Homo sapiens: one gene and its partner. The protein of the gene in region 1 purifies or fractionates together with the protein of each later gene. This does not show direct contact. Each region holds a gene or a part of one and is shown on either strand. Other genes may lie near its edges.

What was found. The genes of interacting proteins can lie anywhere in the genome.
Region 2: the proteins of DBN1 (region 1) and HOMER3 purify together in Homo sapiens (co-immunoprecipitation; 4 studies listed by BioGRID and IntAct, with this or other methods). This does not show direct contact.

Annotation. Positions count from the first base shown.
Region 1 is NC_000005.10:177,470,455-177,478,000, reverse strand, and holds the start of DBN1 (drebrin), read left to right. Parts: upstream 1-4,366; 5' UTR 4,367-4,479; coding exon 4,480-4,565; intron 4,566-5,160; exon of another isoform or gene 5,161-5,225; intron 5,226-5,503; exon of another isoform or gene 5,504-5,790; coding exon of another isoform or gene 5,791-5,882; intron 5,883-7,546. UniProt on the Homo sapiens protein: Actin cytoskeleton-organizing protein that plays a role in the formation of cell projections. Required for actin polymerization at immunological synapses (IS) and for the recruitment of the chemokine receptor CXCR4 to IS.
Region 2 is NC_000019.10:18,938,164-18,945,626, forward strand, and holds the start of HOMER3 (homer protein homolog 3), read right to left. Parts: upstream 3,055-7,463; 5' UTR 2,888-3,054; intron 2,462-2,887; exon of another isoform or gene 1,688-2,461; intron 1,473-1,687; exon of another isoform or gene 887-1,472; 5' UTR 820-886; coding exon 806-819; intron 722-805; coding exon 565-721; intron 322-564; coding exon 190-321; intron 1-189. UniProt on the Homo sapiens protein: Postsynaptic density scaffolding protein. Binds and cross-links cytoplasmic regions of GRM1, GRM5, ITPR1, DNM3, RYR1, RYR2, SHANK1 and SHANK3.

The DNA of each region.
Region 1 (7,546 bases):
AGGCCTTAAAGGAAGGAGGGGAGGGGACCAGGGTTCCGGGGGTCATGGTGGAACAAGAACAAGCTCGCTGACTGACAGCCTGGGGGAACTCAGGACACCAGCACCAGCCACTTGGGAGATTGTGCGGGGGGAGCCACTTCTGAGCCAGTGAGGACCCCAGGACCAGCCTGGGCCCTCCCGCTCAGGTTTTTGGAGTACTGGAAGATCAACTGAGATTTCACCCAAGTTTCTTGCCACTGACAAAATGACCACTACTTGGGTACGAGGCAGATTAGGTAGGCCTCTCAGCTGCAATTCAAGCTAGTGTAAGCAAAAACGGGGATAATTGAACTGAAAAAGTGAATGGCTTCAGACCTGGCTGGATCCAGGTACCCATGGCGGCTACCGGGACCCTCTCTCATGCTCTCCACCTCTCGGCTCTGCTGTCCTCAATGCTGGCTTCATTCTCAGAAGGCTCTCCCCACTGTTGGCAAGGATGGCCCCCAGCAGCTCCAGGCCCATACCTGGCCAGCTCAGCAGCCCCAGCGGACAGAGGGAGCCTTTCTTTTCTTTTTTCTTTTATTTTTTATTTATTTATTTATTTTGAGATGGCGTCTCGCCCTGTGGCCCAGGCTGGAGTGCAGTGGTGTGATCTCAGCCCACTGCAACCTCCGCCTCCCGGATTCAAGCGTTTCTCCTGCCTCAGCCTCCTGAGTAGCTGGGACTACAAGCATGCAACACCAGGCCCAGCTAATTTTTGTATTTTTAGTAGAGACAGGGTTTCACCATGTTGGCCAGGATGATCTTGAGCTCTTGACCTCGTGATCTGCTCGCCTCGGCCTCCCAAAGTGCTGGGATTGCAGGCGTGAGCCACCGCTCCCGGCAAGGGAGGCTTTCTTAATGGCGCCAGCGAAAGTCCGAGGGCCAACGCCCATTGGACTAACTTGGGTCATGTGTCTGTCTCTGAAGTAGTCACTGGGTCTGACCCTTCCTGGCTTGGACGACATACTCCTGTTTAGAGCTGAAAGTGGAAAGTCTGCCAGAAAACGGGAGGCGGAGCAGGCCTGGCAGGGAGGTCCATGGCACTTCCTCCCCTCATGCCCAGGGCCCCGCCCCCGACTCCACTCCCAGACCTCAGAGCTGGAGCATCTGCAACTTCTGATCAGACTCCAGCCCACCTCACCCCTGCATGCAGAAATAGGGGTGCTACAAGGGGAAGCGGGGAGGGTGTGTGGGGTACCGAAATGACCTGGGACAGACCTGGGTTCCCATTCAGACTTTGTGTCTGAATGGGACACAAAGCTGTGTGTCTCCGGGCAAGTCACTGACTCTCTCTGGGCCTCAGTATTCCCATCTGTAAACTAATAATAACAATCAACACATTGACAGCACCTACTATGTCCTGGTCTCATTTTAAGCACTTCCTAGATACTTTTTGAAAATCCTCAAACTGACCCTAGGAGGTAGGTACCATCACTATCACCCCCATATTACAGTTGAAGATGAGTGATTCAAGATAGGTCAGGCACCAAGCTCAAGGTCACACCATTAGCAATAGACTCCTCAGGAGCAGAGCTAATGTGAATGAACGTGGCTGGCCCGGCGCCGGGGGCAGATACCTGGGAACAGCCATGAGCTTTGTGATGATCAAGGGGCAATCTGTGTGTGTGCTTGGTGGGATCTTGCAGAGGTTGGAAGAGGCCAGAGAAGACTCCACCAGCTCTTGCTGAAAAAGTCTTGCAGCCTCCCCTCAGCCCTAAAACCTTCCCGGAGAGGTGTGGGGGAGCACAGAACAGGAAGGTGGGGGTGGAGGGAGGAGGGTGGGGCTGTGAGGAGGGAGGGAGGGAGGGGGTTCTCCTTCTAAGCCTCCATCCAGTCCCATTTTATTCTCACAACAGGTTATCAAAAGGAAACTCAGAGAGGGGAAGTGTTTCAGCCAAGGTCACACAGCAAAGGCCCAGTTTCTGGATCTCAGTCCTCCCTTGTCTCATCTTTTCCACTCTGGGGATCCAGAAGTCATTGGCCCAGCCTCCCGCTGTGTGTAGGGGGAGCTCATGCTCTGGGGGTGGGAGAGACCGACCTGTCAGTGACTTGAAGGGTGATCGGTTTGGGGGTGGCAGACACGAAGTCCTGGTAGGAGGAACCCACCAGCCTCCCACCCACCAAGGCTGAGTGTGTGGGCTTCAGGGGCAACAGCAGCTGAAAGGAGGCAGGTTCTCAGAGGACAGTGACCAGTGGCCACCCACTCCCACCAGTCAGGGCAACTGAGAACTATGGGTCCACTGAGTTTGGCAAGTTAGGGGTTACTGGTGACCTTGGCCAGAGCAGTGCCAGAGAAAATGCGGGGAGGAGGAGACAGAGGACAGATGTCTGTCTGCATCCTATAGAAATGAGGGGATGAAGATAACCTGGAAGGGTGACGGGTGCGGAGACCAGGGGAGTGGGCTCTAGGGCATGCCAGCAGGGAACACCCTTGCTTCCCTGAAAATAGGGAAAACTGAGTGCAGGGTGTATGGGAACTCTCTATACTATCTTTGTAACTTTTCTGTAAATCTAACACTGTTCTAAAATAGAAAGTTTATTTAAAAATGTTGATGGCAAGAGGTGAGAGTGGGCGTGGCTGGAGAGTTTGTAGGTGGCTGGTGGGGAGGCAGGAATTTGAGGAAGGAAGAGCTTAGATGCATTTAGGGCTTCTGTTTTTTGGATGCAAAATTGAGTGTGCAGGAGGCTGGGGGGTGAGGGGAGCGGGGGGGGCGAGGAGCTGTGAGCTAGGACAAATCAAAGGAAGCTGGAAGAGGCTGAGGCCACAGATGCTCATGGCCAGCCATCTGCTGCCCCTCCCCGGCTGCAGGGTCTCCCTCCTCACCAGAATCAGGCTCTTCATGCCTAAGGGTGGGGGATGGCTGAAGCTCTGTCCCTCCATGGCTCTCCCCACTTCCCTTCCCCACCATGTGTCACCCACTCCCTTAGGGATCCCCATGGCAGGCCAACCACACCTACTGGCCAGTTGGTCTAGGGCACAGGGCCTGGCTGTGTCCCTGCCTGGGTGCCTCACTCTAGTGGTGGCCATGGAGAAATTGCCATGGCCTGTGGTCCCTAGACATAGTGGGCACTGACTTCCCAAGGCAGGGGCCTGTGAGTATTTTGAGTTTTAAGAGGGTTCTCCCAACTCCAAAGCGCCAGGAACACTGCCACATAGGCAGCCCTGCTCTCCTTCTCTTGGCATAGCCAATTACCCAACGCAGAACTCGGAGGCCTGGCTAGAACCACCTCCTCCTCCGCGGTGCGGTTGGGACCAGGTGAAGTTTGCTCAGGGAGGTCGAGGTTGGAGGCTTTGTAGTGGTGGAAAAGGCTTCTAAGCGCTGTGGACGGTTTCAGGGTCCCAACCTAGCAAGGAACGGAGTTCTGGAAGGCCCTGGCATGGTGTCCACTCCCTTGCAGGGGGTACTTTTCTGAGGCCCCCTCCCGTTCTGTGCTTAGAGCTTTAGGAGATAAAGGTGCCAAGAGGCTGGCCCTGAGCGTCCTTGGAGGAGCCCTGCCGTGGGAGTCTGGGGTTAGATGCTGCTTCCGGAACTCTACTTGGGACTCCTCTGGGAGGCGTGAGGCTTGAGAGAGAATGCAAAGGATCTCCTAGCTGGCCCCATCTGAGAGGGCACAGGCGTGGAGGGGAGGAGAGGCCTGGAATGGAGGGATAATGAGCTGGGTAGGGGCTGAGAATGGCCTGGAATAAGTGGTCATGGAGCCGAGATGGGGGGCTGTGGTTGGGAATTGGGAACTGGGATCAGGATGAGACTGGGATGGGTTGGACTGAAGATGTGCCGTGACACATGTTGGGGGGGACACGTGCTAAGCATGGGGCTGAAGCTGGGATGGGAAAGCAACTGGGGTGGATTTGAGGGTGGGATGCAGATGACAGTGGATATGATGGGATAGACTAGGCAAGGACCTCTCAGGGAAAGGAGACGGGCCAGGGGTGGGGTGTTGTGTGAGCTGGGTTGGGATGAAAATGGGTTTAACATGAGGTGGGACGCACCAGGAATGGAGATCAATGAAGCAATGGGTGGGGCGGAACCGGATTGGGACGGGGGGTGGGCGGGGGGAGGTGGGGACGGGACTGGGTTCGGGGCTGGAAGGAGGGCTAGCGCCGAGGTTACGGACGGGGCAGGTGAGGGTTCGGGACGTGGGTGGGGCTGGCCCTGGAGCGGCGCGCAGGGGCGGTGGGTGAGGGGCGCCCGGGGCAGGCCGGGAAGGGGGGGCGGGCCTCCCCCTGGGCCGGGCCGGGGCGGCGCTAGGACCGAGCGAGCGGAGGGAGCGAGCCGGGCGGAGCCAGCGCCCCCCGCCCCCCGCCGGCCGGCTCCCCTCCCCCGGCCGCTGGCTCGCTCGGCTCGCGACGCTGCAGAGGCTCCGAGGCGGCGGCGGCGACTCCCTCTTTCCCTCCCTCCTCCTCCGTCCGCCCGTCCGTCCGCGCGTCTGTCCGTTCGGCCCGGTCCGGCCCGAAGCATGGCCGGCGTCAGCTTCAGCGGCCACCGCCTGGAGCTGCTGGCGGCTTACGAGGAGGTGATCCGAGAGGAGAGCGCGGCCGACTGGTGAGCCCCCCGCCCCCGCCCCCGGCCCCTTTGTCCCCGCGCCGCCGCCGCGCCTTTGTTTCTCTCCCGCCCCGCCGCCCCGCCGCCGGGAAGGGAGGGGGACCCCGAAATGGTGCAGCGGGCCGGGAGGGCCGGGAGGGGCTGCCTTTGTGCGCGCCGGGGGAGGGGCCGGCGGGCCAGGCGGGGCACTGCCGGGCCCCGAGCGCCCGGAGGCGGCCCAAGGCGCGCGGTGGGAGCGGCGGCCGGACGCGGCCCGGAGGCGCGGGGTCCCGATGTGGGGCCCGGGGCCGCGTGGCCCTGCGGGAGCCCATCCCCCACCCTACCCCCCGGGCCCGGGGGACAGGTGTGCACGGGGCGGCCAAGGGCACCTTCGCCACCTTCGAGCGGGCGAGGTCCGGGCGGGGACGGGGCGGGGACCGAGCTAGCGGAGCCAGCGCAGCCTGCCCGGCTCAGCCCGGCCCGGCCACAGCACAAAGGAAAGCGAGGGCGGGGGAGGAGCGGAGCGGGCTGGGGGCCGGGCGCCCCGCCCACCGGGGGGCCTCTCGGAGTGGGCCGCCCTCCCCCCGAAACCTGGGCTGGAGTGAGGTGGAAGGATGTTTGCTGCCACATGGCGACCGCGAAGTGACTCCCTTACCGCCGCGGGTCGCGGAGGAGGCAGGGGTGAGCTCTCCTCCCCTACCTGAAGGGGACTGCGGGGACTAGGCAGCTGGGCTGGGGGGCACCGAGCTGCCTAAGGGGCCAGCTGAGATCCCTGGGAGGAAGCCCTCTGGAGAACAAGTGTGGAGGGAGCCCCCAAAGACGGCTGAAGGGGTGAACAGATCCACCGGCCCCCAGCAAGGGGCACTCGGTCCCTGATGGGGGAGGAGCTGGGCCGCCCCTCACCCCGCCCCCCAGCTGTTGTCTCCCGCTGAGCTGGGGGAGGGGATGGACCACCTGCTCTGGGGCTGGCGGCCCAGGGTGGTGGAAAAAGGAAACCGAGGGGTTCCTCACAGCCCCATCCTGGAATCCTTTAACCCCCCCGTAATACTCTTCTTCTAGGGAAGGTGCCCATCTGGTTCCTAGGCCTCCTCTCCCTGCTGGCAGATGGGAACAGGTTCTTCTTGAGGAAACTGAGGCAAAGAGGAGGGCAGGTCTGAGGGACCCCGCTTGGGCTGGCCTCACCCGCACACTGGGAGGGCAGCCAGGTGGGGACTCTGACCTGGGGGCTTCTGGAGGAGAGGATGAGATGGCTGGGCATCCATGGCATGGTACTGCAGCACTGGCCAGCAGCCAGGCCTGGAGGGATGGACGCGAGAGACAAGCTCTCGTGTCCTGCAGGTCAGTCACAGGAGAGGCCGGCACAGGCTCAGCAGGCAGGCGGCCCACCCATTGTCCCAGCCCTGCCCCAGGGGGGCTGAGATCATGGGAGGAGCTCTGGGCAAGTGGCCGGCTTGGCCTGGTGAAGGAGCTGGCTTTGGGATAAGGCCCCGCCTGGGGAGAAGCACAGCTCACCCCAGAACACCTCCTTTGCCCTCCAGCCTGGAGGGGTGTTGTCTACCAACACCCCATTTTCTCCTAAAAGCAGAGCTCTGGTGGCCTATTGCCAAGGCCACACAACCCCTGTTGCCCCACATCCTGCTCAACACAGGCCTGCCCCCACCCACCCCAGCAGCATCCGTGTGGCCAAAGCGAGTTATTCATCACTGGTGTGCGTCAGCCCCCATCTGGGTTGTGTGTGGGACACACACAGATGCACACATGTACCCTCGCACATGCACACATTCGTTCACTAAGGGCCCAGATAACATTTTGAAAAAGGGGTGTGAGGATCACTTTCTACACAAGAGAATATGAATACCCCAGGGCCCAGCATGGAACCAGGGGTGCAGTGAGGTCTGAAGACTCAGAGGCAGACCCTGCACATAGGTCCAGAGGGAGGGGTGTCTTGGGTAAATTGCTGTCTGCCCCCCGACCCTTACCTTGCCTCCAATGGGGAGGGGTGGTTGGGGGAGTTCACTCCTAGGTGGCAGGGCCTCTGAAGTGCACCACTACTCTGGCACAGGGAGCAGGGGACCCAGGAAATGAGGTTGTGTGGTGGGAAGGGCCACTGTTGTCCTGGTTGTGATATGACTCACTGTGATCATACACAAGTTCCTGGTCCTCTTGGAAAGAAAAGGGATTGGGCCCAGCACTACCTCGGATACTGAAGGCCTTTCTAGCACCACCATCCTGAGAGTGATGGTCCTGCGGGGTCCACCTGCCCTCAGCCCCCGACTCCAGCTCACCCTCCACCCCAGCTCACCCCCCATCCCAGCTCACCCCAGGGTCTCTGGAACTGCCACATTCCAGCTCCCACCTCACGCTAGTTCAGTTTATCTGGCTAGATGGCTTTTGAGTTGGTGTCAATATCACACATACTTCTGGTATGCGGTGTGCTGGACCCCAGGACCCAGAGAGCAGGATGTGCTGATTGACTGAGTCAGCGTTCCTGCCTTCACCAGGCTTACAGCTGGGGGCAGTGTCTGTCTCCAGGAGTTGGAGCTGGTGAGATGTGTAGATGCCTGGTCGCCTACCCCATCCTGATTCCCTGTGGTTTCGCCAGCTTCCACCTGGTGCACCACCAGGCTCGGGGTGCCTCTGATGTGGTTGAGAAGCACTGGTCTTTGTATTCCTGCTGGGATATGGTGGGTGCTCTGGGAGGGGCAGCTCAGGAGAGGCTGCTGGGGGCCAGCACTGGGCTCTGAAGAACGGAAGCATTCCACTGGGAATAGGCGTGGGGTAGAGGAGCAGGTCTTGCCTTCCACGTGAAGAGAACTACATAGGCAGAGGCTTCAGGGTGAGCCCTGTCCAGAACCCTGCTTGGGTCAGGGAGCCGTCCAGTGTGTCCCAAGTGTGTGGTGTGGACAGGGTGGTCCAATGGAAAGGCAGGCTGGAGGGTTTGAACTGGGGTATGGTTTCTGCTGGGGGAGAGCTGCGGCTGGAGCAGGAAGAGGTGGCCGGAG
Region 2 (7,463 bases), on another chromosome or scaffold:
AAAAAAACAGAAAAATGAACTAGGAATCAAACCGGGGAAGCTTAAAGGGGCTTCAGTCTCAACTCATCCTACAATCCCATCCTGCAGATGGGAAGATAGGGGACCTGCCCAAGATCCCAGAGTGAGCCCAGGAGAAGACTTGGGCCCAGTCTCATCGGTTCCCTCCACTCTCCCCCTCACCCGGCCCACCTGTGTCAGATGCTGTTCAGAGGCAAAGCCCAGGCCGTAGACTGTGTTGGCGCGACTGTCGGCCCACTGCCCGAACTTCTGGGAAGTTTTGGTGAAGGTCATGTTGGGAGTGACAGTGCTGTTGATGATGGCCTAGGGTCGGGGAACAAAGTTCAAGGTAGATGGGACAGATACTAACAAACATGAAACCCCCCAGGTATTACCTTGTATTAGGGTCTTGAAGGTCTTTACTCTGAACCCTTTCAGGAGATAGAGACTAGGGCCTGGGAAGGCTTAGGGTTTCCTGTCCCTTGGGCACACAGCAAGCCAGCCACCAGACCCAAGGTTGTCACCAGGACTCCTGGTGCCTCTGCCCCACCCAGACCCCACCCTGACCTTGGCGCCTCCGATGCTGATGATGCGGTACACATTGCGGGTGGCATCGTAGAAATAGGAGACAGTGAGTGCGTGCTTGCCCGCTGGGATCCAGTTTCGCTTGGTGGCTGGGTCAATTTGGAACACGTGCGCCCGTGTGCTGAAGATTGGCTGCTCCCTGCGTGGGGAGAGGGTGTTTGGTGGGGGCCAGGCACCCCCACTTAGAAAGCTCAGGGCCAGGCTGGGGGAGGTGGGAGCTCACCTGGCTGTGGACATTGGTCAGGCTGGGATGGGCAGGCTCTAGGGGGCAGCCAGAGAGGTGGCAGGAGCACTGGTTTGGCCCCTAGGGAGAGAGGAGGGACTATGAGTGTCCCTCAGGCCAGGCTGAGGGAGGCCAAGCAGGTTCCATCTCAGGACCCATCACCAGGTGTGCCCGTCATGGAACTTTCAATCAAAAAGGCAGGAGAGGCCCAAAGTACACCTGGTGCTTTGGGAGGCTGAGTCAGGAGGATCCTTTGAGCCCAGGAGTTCGAGACCATCCTGAGCAACATGGCGAGACCCCATCTCTACCAAAAATTTAAACAATTAGCTGGGTGTGGTGGCATGTGCCTGCCGTCCCAGCTACTGGGGAGGCTGAGGTGGGAGGATCACTTGAGCCCAGGAGGTCAAGGCTGCAGTGCAGTGAGCTATGGTCAGGCCACTGCACTCCAGCCTGGACAAGAGAGTGAGACCCTGTCTCAAAAAAGAAAGAAATTATAAAAAGAAACAAAAAGGTAAGATAATTATTATAGATAACTCAGAGCAAGCAGACCCCATCTTTCTTTGTCTAGGGGAAGCCCCCACAACACCCTGTACAGGAGATGGCCCTCTGAGAGGAGCCTGGTGGCCGCTGACATCCAGATGTAAATTTCTCATTGTCCTGGTTATTGCACCCCCGTGAAGTCCCCTCCATCCCAGGCTGAGCTGTGGAGGCCAAATCTCTGCTGAGTTCTTTCCACCACATTCACCCATGACTGGCCAGAGCGGGGCTCTCCACCAAAAAATGGGGCGTTGAGAGGTGTGTAGTACCAGGAGACCAGTTCCCCACTACACCCTGCAGAGGGACCCCACCCCCAGCAGCTCCCACCCTAGGGCAGAAGCACACCTTGAAGTCCAGAGTCCAAATCCCCAGGGAGCCCCCAGCCAAGTTAAAAAGACAAGATGTAGACAAACAGCCAATCCCAATGCCCACCATGAGGGCAGAGCAGAATCCACACTGGGAGACCAGGGCTCCCCAACCTCCCCATTGGGCCATTCAGCAACCCCGAATCTGCAGGGGACCAAGGAGGAGTTTGGAGGAGGGGGAAGACAGGTGGGGGAGGGGAGGCCCTGGCCCAGCGGCCTCTGTGGTCAAAGGGGGGATGCCCCCCCTATCCTGTCCTGGGCAGCTGCTGTCCTGGTCACAGGGTCTGAAACCGGAGCCCCTGAGTGGGGGTGGGGCGGCAGCTCTGGCCTGGACTGGGGGCGGGTCCTGCGCCGGGTGGGAGTTGGGGAACACAGGGGTCCCCGGAACCCAGGCCCTTCCGGTCCGGCAGCTCCTGCTGCGACTTGCAGCGTTTGGGGAAAGTTACTCACCAACTAGTCATGCGCCTCGGATGCCGCCGGCCACGGGGCTCCCGGAGGGGGGTCCGACACCGCCCGGTGCCCGGGATCCCCAATCTGGCCGGTGGATGAGGCCCCATCCCATGCACCCGAGTGCGGGGGACGGGGGGGTTAATATTAATTCAGGATCCCATCCCCACCCGAGGCAGGACACCCAGTGCACGCCCCAACTCCGGGACGCGGGCTCTGACCCTGGAACTTCCGAGATTCCCGCGACGCCCCCTGTCTCTGGGTCCAGAACTTCGGGGGACACCTCTTCTGCCTCCTCCAACCCCAGGTCGGTAACTCCGGGGACTCCCTTCGTGACTCCTCCTCTAACTGGGTCCGGGACCCCGGTCCTCCGCGTTGTCCTAGACTCCTAAACTTCGAGGACCCCCTGCCACCCCTCCAGTCCCTGGGTCCGGGACGTCCGGACCCCTCCCACCCCAGTACCCCACCCCAGGTCCGCAGCTTTGGGGACCTCTTCGCAGCCTCCTCCAACGCCGGGTCCAGAACTTTGGGAACCTCCCACGCAGTCCCCTCTCAGACCCTGAATCCAGAACTTCGGGACCCCCGCGCTCCCTCCAGCCCTGGAACTTGGGGACCCCTCGCGCCGCTCCCAGTCCCGGGTCCGAAACTTCTGGGGAACCCCCACGCCCTCCCCTTGGCCCTGGGACTTCGAGGCCCCCGCGCTCCCAGCGCAGGCTCGGCAGGCCGGGCTCACCCTGCCAGGTCGGCGCCCCGCGAGTGTCCAGGCGCGAGTCGGGTGCGGCCCCCGCGGCGCTGACTCCGCGCTGCCGGGCGCCCCGCTCGCTCCCTGGCTCCCGGGCCCGCGCCCTCCGCGCCGCCCTCCACGCCGCCCGTGCCTTTGTCTGCGCCGCCGCCGCCCGCGCCGCCTCCGGTCCCATCGCGGCCGGTCCCGACGCGGCCGCCGCCCGCCCCGCCTCCCCGGGCCGCCAAGGCCGCCCCGCTGCGCCCCCTGCCGGCTTTTTGCACTGGGAGAGGGTATGGGGGAGGGGATAAGGGGGAGGGGCGGGGGCCGGGACTGGGGAAGGGACGGAGGATTGAGGGAGGGGGTTAGGGGCGGTGGAGGGGGAGTGGGGGGGGGGGTTGCGTGGGGTCGGGTTGGGAGCAGAGGGTGGGGACAGAGAGACAGACGGAGAGGGACATCTGGGATGAGAAAGAGACCCAGAAACAGAGACACGGGGGAGACAGGCGGAGAGATAGGAAGCAGATGGAGAGAGTTGCACGGACAGCGATGTGACCTCACCCTCCTGTCACCTTCTCAGGAGACAGCTGCCTCTGTCCCCACTACCTGAGGTCATAACTTTGGGCCTGTGAGGGAGGTCAGGTCCCTCCCGGGCTGACATGGGTGGCCCAGTGAGGTTGGGGAGGGGGCAGTGGGTCTCAGGGTCTGCATACAGTAAGTGCTCAATGGGTGTTGCCAGGAAACGGAAGAGATCAACTTCGGGAGGGAACGGGAAGCAAGACAAAGAGAGAGAAGCCTCTGTTCCCCTGCCCGTCCCATCCCTAAGCAGGGACGTCTGTCCACCTCTGTCCCTCCCAAGACGATGGTAAAAATGCCCACAATGGTTGGATTAAGGTTATCTTTGCTGTTGTTTGAGGGTTCCAAAATCCAAAGGCTGAGGAAATGTCTCCAACGCATGGTTGCATCCCCTCAGCCTCCACTGGCCTGCGTTTGTCACCTCTGGTCACAGGGAGCACCCCCTTCCCACACTTGCCAGGAGAGCATCCTTCCGGAGTTGAACTAGGATCCACCTCCCCAGCCCCAAGCCCATGTGTCCCACTTGTCAATCCTGGTGCCGCCCCCTCTCTGGCACCGTCTCCAAAATCACACGGTGCGGCGCCGTTGGTTCGTTTGTGGACAGAGGTCCTGCAGCTCCCTGGAACCAAGGCCTGTGGCGCCCTAAAGCTCTGATCTTACATTTGAGTTTTTCTTTTCTTTTCTTTTCTTTTTTTTGAGACAAAGTCTCACTCTGTTGCCCAGGCTGGAGTGCAGTGGCACAATCTCGGCTTACTGCAGCCTCTGCCTCCCAGATTCAAGCAATTCTCCTGCCTCAGCCTCCCGAGTAGTTGGGACTACAGGTGCATGCCACCACACCTGGCTGATTTTTGTATTTTTAGTAGAGATGGGGTTTCACCATGTTGGCCAGTCTGGTCTCGAACTCCTGACCTCAAGTGATCTGCCCCCCTCGGCTTCCCAAAGTCCTGGGATTACAGACGTGAGCCACCACACCTGGCCGACACTTGAGTGTTTTGACAACTTCAGAGAGGCTTTTGCTTTTCATCTCCAAGACCTCTGCTCCTGTCTCCTTTCCCTGTTCCTTTATTTCTGTTTCCTTCTAAGAAGAATAGTATATCTGAGCTGGCGGTTACATTACATTCAAATTACCTTTAGGTGAATTCCAGGTCAGGTTGTTTTTGGAGATTGACTCCTGCGCCAAGATCTGAGTCTTCCCCCATCCAGGCCTTTGCCCAAACTGTTCCTTCCACCTGGAATGCCCTCGCTGCAGGCATCTCTTCTGCCTTGTCCTTCCAGGCTCAGCGCCACCACCCTGTCTCCTCCTCCAGGAAGCCTCTCTGACTACCCTGGCCTTGGAAGGGATCTTGCCCTCCCCTGTCCCAATCCCTGTGACTCTTTTTTTTTTCTTTTTTAAAGTTTATTTTTAGAGACGAGGTCTCACTATGTTGCCCAGGCTGGTCTCAAACTCCTAAGCTCAAGTGATCCTCCCACCTCGGCCTCCCAAAGTGCTGGGATGACAGGTGTGAGCCCAGACCCTTTCTGTGACTCTTATGTTACCTGTTTATTACATGACCAGGTCTGGGTGCTCCTCTAGGGCTGGCCCATCCATCCTGAAGCCCCAGTCTGACCCAGCACAAGAGCGACTGTTCATCCCACAGGGGAAACTGAGGCACAGACTCGGTTTCCCTGGCTGCTTCTAACTTCACGAGGCATCTGCACAAGGGAAGGATTTGGCTCTGTTCTCAGGCCGGAAGCCACGAAATGCTTGAACATTGTGGGGAGCAAAGAAAATACCGTCTGTTCTGTGCAAAAAATGACTTTTCCTTATTACCAACAAAATAATGGAAAAAATAAAAAAGTATCTGGGAAAGGTGCTGGCATGGCCAAGGCTTCTGGAAGCTGCTTAGAGTTTGCCAAGTGCACAAGTGGGGCCCTGTGGCTATTTTACAGGGGCGGCTGGGCGAGGGGCCCAGGCAGACTTTGCCCTTTGTGTGGGCAGAAAGCAACAGTGAAAGAGACAGTGAAGGGTTGAGTTGCTTTCCTGAACACCCTCTCCGGTCTCTGGGAGGGGCTGGGACAGGGCTGGCCTTGAGCAGCCCCAACCTGAAGCTGGACTAGCCAAGTCTACACTGAGGCACTGGCTTCCTCAGTGTGGGCCTCAGTTTTCTCACCTGGAAAATGGGCCGATGCTTGCAGGGCTTCTAGTAGAGGGAGAAACATGAAGGATTTAGTCAATATCAGCAGCTGTCCTCTGGGGTGCCTGCCATTAGGTTCGTGGGCAAAGGCCCTGCCACTCTTTGCTGCAGCTGGGAAAACAGAGTCTGTGTCTCAGTTTCCCTGCTGGGATGAATAGTCACTCTTATGCTGGGTCAGACTGAGGCTTCAGGATGGATGGGCCAGCCCTAGAGGAGCACCTAGACCTGGTCATATAATAAACAGGTAACATAAGAGTCACAGAAAGGGGCTGGGCTCATGCCTGTCATCCCAGCACTTTGAGAGGCCGAGGCTGGAGGATCGCTTGAGCTCAGGAGTTCGAGACCAGCCTGGGCAACATAGTGAGACCTCGTCTCTAACGAGGGCTGCCCTGAGCTGCTGCCCCCACCCCAGTCTGGGCCCTCTTCTTCCTAGGTCTGGAGGCCTCTCTTCTAAAGAACTGGGCTGGGTGCAGTGGCTCATGCCTGTAATCCTAGCACTTTGAGAGGCTGAGGCAGGCAGATCACCTGAGGTCAGGAGTTTGGGACCAGCCTGGTCAAAACATGGTGAAACCCCGTCTCTACTGAAAATACAAAAATTAGCCGGACGTGATGGTGCACACCTGTAATCCCAGCTACTCGGGAGGCTGAGGCAGGAGAATTGCTTGAACTCAGGAGGCAGAGGTTGCAGTGAACTGAGATCAGGTGACTGTACTCCAGCCTGGGTGACAGAAGGAGACTCTGTCTCAAAAACAAAAACAAAAAAGGGTGGGGGGGAGGGAGGAAGGAAGGAAGGAACAGACTTGAGATGTCCTTGCAGGGCAGGCAGAGGCCACCCCAAGGTGTCTGACTAGGAAAGCAACTTTCCTTTGGGGCTGAAAAATGGTGTGGGAGAATGAGCTTCCCACCTTAAAGGGGAAACCAAGCGGGAGCCTGAACAGCTCATTCAGCACTAAGAAAACTGCATTTGCAGAATGGCTTTTATGGCTCAGGCTCTGGTCTCTGCCTAGTTAGATCTGACCTAGCCTTTGGAGTGAGGCTAAACAGTCTCTCCTCTCCAGAGACTTTCTGTGCCACCAGAGCAGGGACAGTCCACCTGCTCTTCCCGAAAGCTGGGTGCCCACCTCCCAGTGAAGGTCTTGGTGACTACTTCAGGTCTGTTTATTGTTTATGGCATGATTTGGTTACTGTTCACCTCTTACATGGATTTGTCCCTGCACCTAGAACAAGCCTGACCTGTGACAGCTTTCTTTTTTTTTGGAGATGGAGTCTCACTCTGTCGCCAGGCTGGAGTGCAGTGGCACAATCTCGGCTCACTGCAACCTTCAATTCCTGGGTTCAAGCTATTCTTCTGCCTCAGCCTCCCGAGTAGCTGGGATTACAGGCACTCGCCACCACACCCAGCTAATTTTTGTATTTTTTTTTTTAGTAGAGACAGGATTTCACCATGTTGGCCAGGATGGTCTCAATCTCCTGACTTCGTGATCCGCCCGCCTTGGCCTCCCAAAGTGCTGGGATTACAGACGTGAGCCACCGCCCTTGGCCCCTGTGACAGCTTTCTATGAGCACTTTCAGGAGTAGGAGATCCCCAGGTTCCAGCTTTCGACTTGGCTTTCGGAATCACGTGAGCCAGGGAGTGAATCCCAGCCCTGCTGCTTACCAGCAGTGCCACCCTGAAGAAGTCACTTTCCCTTCTTTGTGCCTCAGGTTCCCCATCCATAAAATGGGCATACGAATGGTGTTCACTTCTGAGGTTTACTGTAGGGATCCAATGAGTTCTTTCTTTTTCTTTTCTTTTTTTCTTTTGAGACAGAATCTTGCTCTGTCACCCAGGCTGGAGTGCA